2 linked regions of the Homo sapiens genome follow. The protein of the gene in region 1 interacts with the protein of each later gene in a pairwise test. Each region holds a gene or a part of one and is shown on either strand. Other genes may lie near its edges. The genes, in order: KCNAB3 and GMDS.

Region 1 (3,912 bases):
ACATCATGCCGTTTCACACTAGGAGCAGGGAAAACCTAGGATGACCTACCCTGCCTCTTCCCCATCTAGCAAACACTTCTGCTCATCTTCAAGACTTGACCCGAGTGTCCGCTCCTTCAAGAACTTTGCCCAACTCCCCAGAGTTGGTCACCCCCTCCCCCACCATGAGCTCCTAAAGCACTGTGGACTGCCTTCTGACACGCAATTCGTGGTTTATGCAGCTATATTAGCTGCTCAAGTCAGAGGCCTCCTTCCATGGAACTTGTCTTGCTCTTCCCCAAGTACCCACACAGAGCCTGGCACAGAGCAGGTGCTGCTTCTGGGAAGAATCAACATGTCTGCGAAAGTGCACACAGTCTAAGTGGTTAAAGGAAAAAAAAAGGGCAATAGGAAAGATTAAACAACGGTAAAACATTTCAGTAACAGTCCACCATGACAACTTAAGACTTGTCATAAGTGAGCTCATAATTTTATGCTAAATTATGTAGCCAATTCTGTGGAAGCTGACCAGAAGGCTGGACCATAGATTGTGGCACTCAGAGAACACATTATGGATGAGGCAGAATTTGAGCTGAGCTTTGGAGGACGGGTGGGATTTTGCAGAGGCTCAAAGAAGGAGGAGGGCAACCCAGATAGTTGAAGCCAGACAAGGCAGTGTCCTTCCTGGCTCCACCATAGTTGGCCCCTCTCCCCTCATCCTATTCTATCTTTTTGGCACCCACAGCAGGGCTTGGTACACAGCTAATGCACAACAGATATTTGTTGAATATGTGATGAAAACTATACAACTACACCCCTAGTTCCTTCCAACAGACCTCTTATTTTGTCCAGGATGGGGCTGTGAGCTGAAATGGACTCCTGGTTTATATCCTACTTTGCAAGAGAGGAAAAGGTGGGGAGGAGAGGAAGGAATTGATTGGCCTAGAAGGGATCAGTGGCTCTGCCTTATGTTTCTTTTAGGGCTGAAAGAACCCTAGGGAACATCCTCAAGAGCAAAGGTTGGAGGTGAGACTGTTTTGGGGGGTTGCTGGGGATGTGATCACCCAAAAATCCTTTTCTTACTGGTTCTCCCATTTCTATTCTTCCAGGAGATCAAGCTATGTCATCACTACCAAGATTTTTTGGGGAGGACAGTAAGTGGCTGCCCCACTGCGATTGTGGAGAAGGCCTACAAAGAATGTGTGAAGGTGTATGGGGTGGGGGTGGGGACAGCTATCCTGCACCAGGTCCGCACCATGCCTGTGAAGACTCGTGCAATCCCATTTCCTTATGGCTCCAAGCCAGCCCCGGTCCCCTATCTTTGTCACATCTCATCTTTGACTTACCTTTTCCTACAGGGCAGAAACCGAGCGAGGTTTAAGCCGAAAGCACATCATTGAGGGTGAGAGTTAGGGGCTGGAAACCCAAAGTGAGGGGATATGGAAGCCAGAGGAGTAGGGAACATTCTCTGAACTTCTGGAGGCTTTGAATAGGGATTTAGGTGGCCATGGCAAGGGGGCAAGGTCTGAATTCTTTTTTTTTTTTTTTTTTTTTTGAGACGGAGTTTCACTCTTGTTGTCCAGGCTGGAGTGTAATGGCACGATCTCGGCTCACTGCAACCTCCTCCTCCCGGGTTCAAGGGATTCTCCTACCTCAGCGTCTCGAGTAACTGGGATTACAGGCACACGCCACCACGCCTGGCTAATTTTTTGTATTTTTAGTAGAAATGGGGTTTCACCACGTTAGCCAGGCTGGTCTCAAACTCCTGACCTCAGGTGATCCGCCCACCTCGGCCTCCCAAAGTGCTGGGATTACAGGCATGAGCCACCACGCCTGGTGGCCTGCATTCTTAGTACACTGAAGCTGAGGTGCTTATTTTCTTCTCCCTACCCCACCTCCAGGCTTGCGAGGATCCCTGGAACGCCTCCAGCTGGGATACGTGGACATTGTCTTTGCCAATCGCTCAGACCCCAACTGTCCTATGGAGGGTAAAAGCAGCACCCCCAAACCTTACAGTCCTTCAAAACTGAGCACTTCCTTGCTGGGTGCGGTGGCTCATTCCTGTAATCCCAGGACGTTGGGAGGCCAAGGCAGGAGGATCACTTGGGGCCTGGAGTTCGAGAACAGTCTGGGCAACATAGCAAGACCCTGTCTCTACAAAAAATGTTTTAAAATTAGCTGGCTGTGGTGGTGTGTGCCTTGTACTCCCAGCTGTTCAGGAGGCTGAGGCAGGAGGATCATTCAAGCCCAGGAGTTTGAGGCCACAGTGAGCTATGATTGCACCACTGAACTACATCCTGAGTGACAGAGTGAGACCCTGTCTCAAAAAATCTAAAATACAAAAATTGAGCACTTCCTCAAACCCTCAGCAGGAAGCCAGCCCCTGCTCAGAAGGCCTCCAAAACTCCACAGTGGAGGCTGAGACTCCAGGATGTGGACAGGAAGAGAGGCAAAGAGTAGATATTAACTTTCATGACTCCATAGAGTTGCCTGGGGCCTTGGTGGGGCAGGTGGAGGTCTGCAAATCTGGAGTCTTAGATTCCAGGGCTCTGACAGTAAGGCTTTCCCTCTCCTGTGTACCTAGAGATTGTGCGAGCCATGACCTATGTCATCAACCAGGGCCTGGCCCTATACTGGGGGACATCCCGATGGGGGGCTGCAGAAATCATGGTGAGTGTGTGACCCCACCTTGCCCCTGTCCCACAACTGGTTCCCACTTTTCACGTGGTTACTCCAAAGCCCACTGCACTGGGGGAGAAGGCAGAGAAGAAAACGGAAGTAGTGCTCTGACCACTTTCTTTTCCCCAACCCCAACCCAGGAGGCCTACTCCATGGCCAGACAGTTCAATCTGATTCCTCCAGTGTGTGAACAAGCGGAGCACCATCTGTTTCAGAGGGAGAAGGTGGAGATGCAGCTGCCAGAGCTCTACCACAAGATTGGTTTGCAGCCCTCATCCCTGCCTTTACCTTAGCCTCATCCATGGCTAGGTCCTTTTCCTGACACCCAGTGTTCTTCCCTTAGGAGTTGGATCAGTCACTTGGTACCCTCTAGCCTGTGGTCTCATTACTAGCAAGTATGATGGGCGAGTCCCAGATACTTGCAGGGCCTCCATCAAGGTGAGATCTGGGGGCTCTCGATGGCAGGACTGGGCTATATGGGCTGCTTTGGGGGGAGTTACGGGGGGCTGCTTTGTGAGTGTGGTGGTGGTGGTGGTGATGGCGGGGTCTTCTGTTGATTCTTCTTGGCCTCCAGGGCTACCAGTGGCTCAAGGACAAAGTGCAGAGTGAAGATGGCAAGAAGCAACAAGCCAAAGTCATGGACCTTCTTCCTGTCGCTCACCAGCTGGGCTGCACCGTGGCCCAGCTTGCTATTGGTGAGACATTGCACCCTGCAGGGGCCCTGTCTCCTCCTGACATGCTCCCAAGCCCATCCTAAAACTGGTTTGTCCCTAGGGAGGACGCTTGTCTTCAGAGACACTTCTGAAATCTATGTGGTCACTGTTCCCCATCAGTCCTCTTTTTTTCCTCCTCTGGCCCCAGCGTGGTGTCTCCGCAGTGAGGGTGTCAGCTCTGTCTTGCTGGGGGTGTCGAGTGCGGAGCAGTTGATAGAACACCTGGGCGCGCTACAGGTGAGCCGGGGACTCAGAGGCAGAGCCTATCTGTCCCCCTCCCCAGGAGTCAAAGCCACGCTATCCAACCCAGGATGGCTCTATCAGGTCACCCACTACAAAGTCCTCACTTTGCAGGTGAGAGGTCCCAGGGCCGGAAAGCGAGGCACCGGCACAGCTGCGGCTCTTGCCTTGCCACTTGACCCCACTGTGGTGCTTCCCCGGCTACTGGAACCCCATGCCCTTTCTCAGTGACCCAGCATGGGCTGCCGTCGCCACCGTCCCACTCTCCTCCAGGTGCTGAGCCAGCTGACCCCGCAGACAG
Region 2 (3,912 bases), on another chromosome or scaffold:
AAATTAATAGTTCATTGGTTTCATTTAAAAAAAAAACTATCCTGGCCGGGCACGGTGGCTCACGCCTATAATCCCAGCACTTTGGGAGGCCAAGGTGGGCGGATGACTTGAGGCCAAGAGTTCAAGACCAGCCTGGCCAACATGGCAAAACCCCAACTCTACTAAAAATACAAAAATTAGTTGGGCGTGGTAGCGCACGCCTGTAATCCCAGCTACTCAGGAGGCTGAGGCACAAGAATCACTTGAACCCAGGACACGGATGTTGCAGTGAGTGAGATCATACCACCATTGCACTCCAGCCTAGGCAACAGAGTAAGATCTGTCTCAAAAAAAAAAAAAAAAAATCCAATTGGCTTTATGTCTAAAACTGAAATTACTGCACTGCTTAAATATAAAGATAATTGCATAATTTCTCTATTGTACACATAATAAGTCAGCATGTAATCCAAACATCACACTACTGTAGACTAGGAGCAGCCCTTAGATCCCTAAGAATAACCAGGTAACCCTTTCACTTGACAAGTTAAGAAAAACACTCAAAAAATGTAAGGCTATACAATTAATTGGTATCAAAACCCAACCTCTGATTCCCAGTCCAGAGCTCTTTCAATTAATCACATGTAACAGTCTTTGATTAAGCAGGACAGTACTCAAGACATCTCTCTCACTTCCAATAATGCCAGACCTTTTTTTTTTTTTTGAAATGGAGTCTTGCTCTGTCGCCCAGGCTGGAGTGCAGTGGCACGATCTCGGCTCACTGCAAGCTCTGCCTCCCGGGTTCACCCCACTCTCCTGCCTCAGCCTCCCAAGCAGCTGGGACTACAGGCACCTGCCCCCATGCCCAGCTAATTTTTTTGTATTTTTAGTAGAGACAGGGTTTCACTATGTTAGCCAGGATGGTATCGATCTCCTGACCTCGTGATCCAGAGATTTGGGAGGCCCGCCTCAGCCTCCCAAAGTGCTGGGACCACAGGTGTGAGCCACCACGCCCAGCCCAATAATGCCAAACCTTTTATCCCAGGACTGCAAATCCCAGCAAGGAAGATTTAGAATGGAAGTCACTGCCTACAATCCTCTTATATGAGAAGATAAGACCAGCTCCCAGATCTGCTTTGCACAGTCTTGAAAGACTCACTGGACATTAAATCTGTTGGCCTCCCAGTACTTTATAGCCTTGTGGTTGATTCCAAATATTACAGAACTTTCTGCTTCTAGATAATAGATTCCCCATGCAAAGCAAGGCTAAATAGTAATACCTCCCACATTCAACTTCCTTTCCTAAAAGTCAAGAAATCTTTTATTATTCTGTTAACACTATGGAGGGAAGGTCCATTCCAGTAATGAGGCAAAGGCCACTACTATGTGCAGATTTATTTCCTATTTGATAAGAATTATTCTTCCAACCTGGCAGAAAAGATAAGTGACTTACCCAAAGCCAGTGCAGTTCAGAAAGAGCTAAGCAGTAATTCAAACACCTGTAATCCCAGCTACTCAGGCAGCTAAGGCACGAGAATCATTTGAACCTGGAAGGTAGAGGTTGCAGTAAACCGAGGTCACGTCACTGCACTCCAGCCTGGACAACAGAATAAGACTGTCTCAAAAAAAAAAAAAAAAAAAGAAAAGAAAAAGAAAACCACCTCATAGAAGCTCTCTGTTGCTTCAACAAATATACTTTGAACAAAATGTAATGCACTTTGAACGGTACCTGGCACAAACTAAATGCTCAGTACTTGTTAATTATTTTAATCTACCATAATTATAACTATCACCATCATCATACCACTAGACTATCAATGTCATAAGGAAGATGGTAATTCAGTCTGTTGCATTTGCTGTTCAAAGTGCATTACTTGTAGAATTGGTAGAGAAAAGGGAAACAGATCAGAAAAATTTTTCAAATCTACAACCTGGTCATGTGATAGTGAAAGAAAACAGCATTTTTCAGTAAAGAAAGCCAATGGTGCTGGGGAGCAATCACCTGCTAAAGAGGTTGGCATGGATAAAAGGGAGCCAGGTGCTAATAGTCAGAACAATGGGAAAAGACCCTGAAGGCATCTCAGACATCTTTGAGGCTGTCTCTCCCATCAGAGGCCCAGAGACCTAGGAGGACAGCATGGTTTGGGGAGACAGGCCCGGGGCACAGCTGGCCTGGCACACCTCAAGGAGTCCTGGAACGTCCTACATGCTGCTCCGACATCCTGGCTGCTGCAGTCACAGAATGTCTACCCAATGACCGTACAACCATTGTATCTTGGAAAAAAATTATTCGTTTTTGGTTTTACAGGCTCATAGCTAGAAGGAACTTGCTTTGAGTCTCAGACTTTGAACCGTTAAGTTGGTGCTGGAACAAGTTAAGAATTTTAGGGACTATTGGAATTGTATTTTGCATGAGAAAGATGATTGTATTTTGCATGTGAGAAGGATGAGATCTGGGGGGTCAGGGATGGAATGCCATGGTTTGGATCTTTGACCCCTCCAAATCTCACACTGAAATTTAATCCCCAAGGTTGGAGGTGGGAACTAATAGGAGGTGTTTTGGTCATGGAAGCAGATCCCTCATGAATGCTTGGTGCCATCCTCACAGTAATGAGTGACTCCTCACTCTATTAGCTCCCGCTAGAGCCGGTTGTTAAAAAGAGCCTGGCACCCCACACCCCACCCCACCTCTTGCTTCCTCTCTCACCATGTAATCTCTGCATACACTAGCTCCATGAGTGGAAGCCTAAAGCTTTCAGCAGAAGCAGATGCTGGTGCCATGCTTCTTGTACAGCCTTCAGAACCATGAACCAAATAAACCTCTTTTCTTTATAAATTACCCAGCCTCAGGTATTCCTTTATAGCAACACAAACAGATGAAGACAACTTTCATATCTTTATATCTGCAGCAGCACCAAAACAAGCCTTGGACACTGCAGACATGCAGTGAAGATGTGTTCTGCTAATGGAAAAAGTAAGTCAACAGTTTTGAAACCCCACTAGATGAAGGCATGTGGGAGGTAACAGGCTGAAAATGAGATTTCTATCTTAAAGTAGTTCATAATCTCAAGACAAAAGATATGAAATTACTTATACAATCAACAGGGACTGCATACATGTAAATACAGAGGAAGTTCCTGGAATGGCTGCATTTATCAGGATTAGGCTGAGAACACTGAGACTCACCTTAAAAGGAATAAGAATTGTGAGGCCATTCAGCCACAAATAATTACTCCAAAGAGGTACAAGGCAACAGTATTCAAAAAACAGCAAGAACATCTCCAAGAGTGCAGTAAAGAACAGCATCATTAGCCAATGGGGGTGAGCTTTTAAGAGTGGCTGGCAGAGGGCCTGGAGACAGCAATGCAAAGCCAGAGCCTGAGCTTCTTTAAAGCCTATTTAATAAGGTTCCCACTTTGGAAAAGGAGTGTGTCAAGAACCGATGGGAGGGGAAGGCTAGAATAAGAAGCCTGACAATACGTACTAGAGATACACAGCAGACAGGACACCCTGGCTGTCCGCACTATTCTCAAGCGGGAATTTGGGACAACCCATTTAAGAGCCCATCTTGGCACAAATGCCATGATAGCCCCAAGTGCCAGAGCAGTGGCATTTGAATCTGAAATCTCTTCTTAGAGTAAGACTATTTATTTCTCTCTGTCTCATAAGGCTCACCACAGTCTGTATAACAAAATGACTTACAGCAACTGCTGAGATCTGGGTTCAGATCTCAGTTCTGACACTCATTAGATGTACGACCTCAGGGAACATATTTAACCTTACTTAGCCAGGGATAAATGGGGATACTTATTATACCTGTCTCTTAGGTAGGGATATACAAAATGCTTAGCAGAGTGAATAGCTCAGTAAGTTCTCAGCCAATATTATTAAGAAAACATACAATAAGGTATGGATTTTCAGACCCCTTGCATTAAC

What was found.
Region 2: the proteins of KCNAB3 (region 1) and GMDS interact in binary tests that used the Homo sapiens proteins (3 or more experiments, as listed by UniProt).

The regions. Positions count from the first base shown.
Region 1 is NC_000017.11:7,923,152-7,927,063, reverse strand, and holds part of KCNAB3 (voltage-gated potassium channel subunit beta-3), read left to right. Parts: intron 1-960; coding exon 961-1,005; intron 1,006-1,088; coding exon 1,089-1,133; intron 1,134-1,337; coding exon 1,338-1,381; intron 1,382-1,880; coding exon 1,881-1,967; intron 1,968-2,563; coding exon 2,564-2,649; intron 2,650-2,798; coding exon 2,799-2,919; intron 2,920-3,001; coding exon 3,002-3,096; intron 3,097-3,232; coding exon 3,233-3,353; intron 3,354-3,432; coding exon of another isoform or gene 3,433-3,519; coding exon 3,520-3,608; intron 3,609-3,884; coding exon 3,885-3,912. UniProt on the Homo sapiens protein: Regulatory subunit of the voltage-gated potassium (Kv) channels composed of pore-forming and potassium-conducting alpha subunits and of regulatory beta subunit. The beta-3/KCNAB3 subunit may mediate closure of potassium channels.
Region 2 is NC_000006.12:2,239,004-2,242,915, forward strand, and holds part of GMDS (GDP-mannose 4,6 dehydratase), read right to left. Parts: intron 1-3,912. UniProt on the Homo sapiens protein: Catalyzes the conversion of GDP-D-mannose to GDP-4-dehydro-6-deoxy-D-mannose.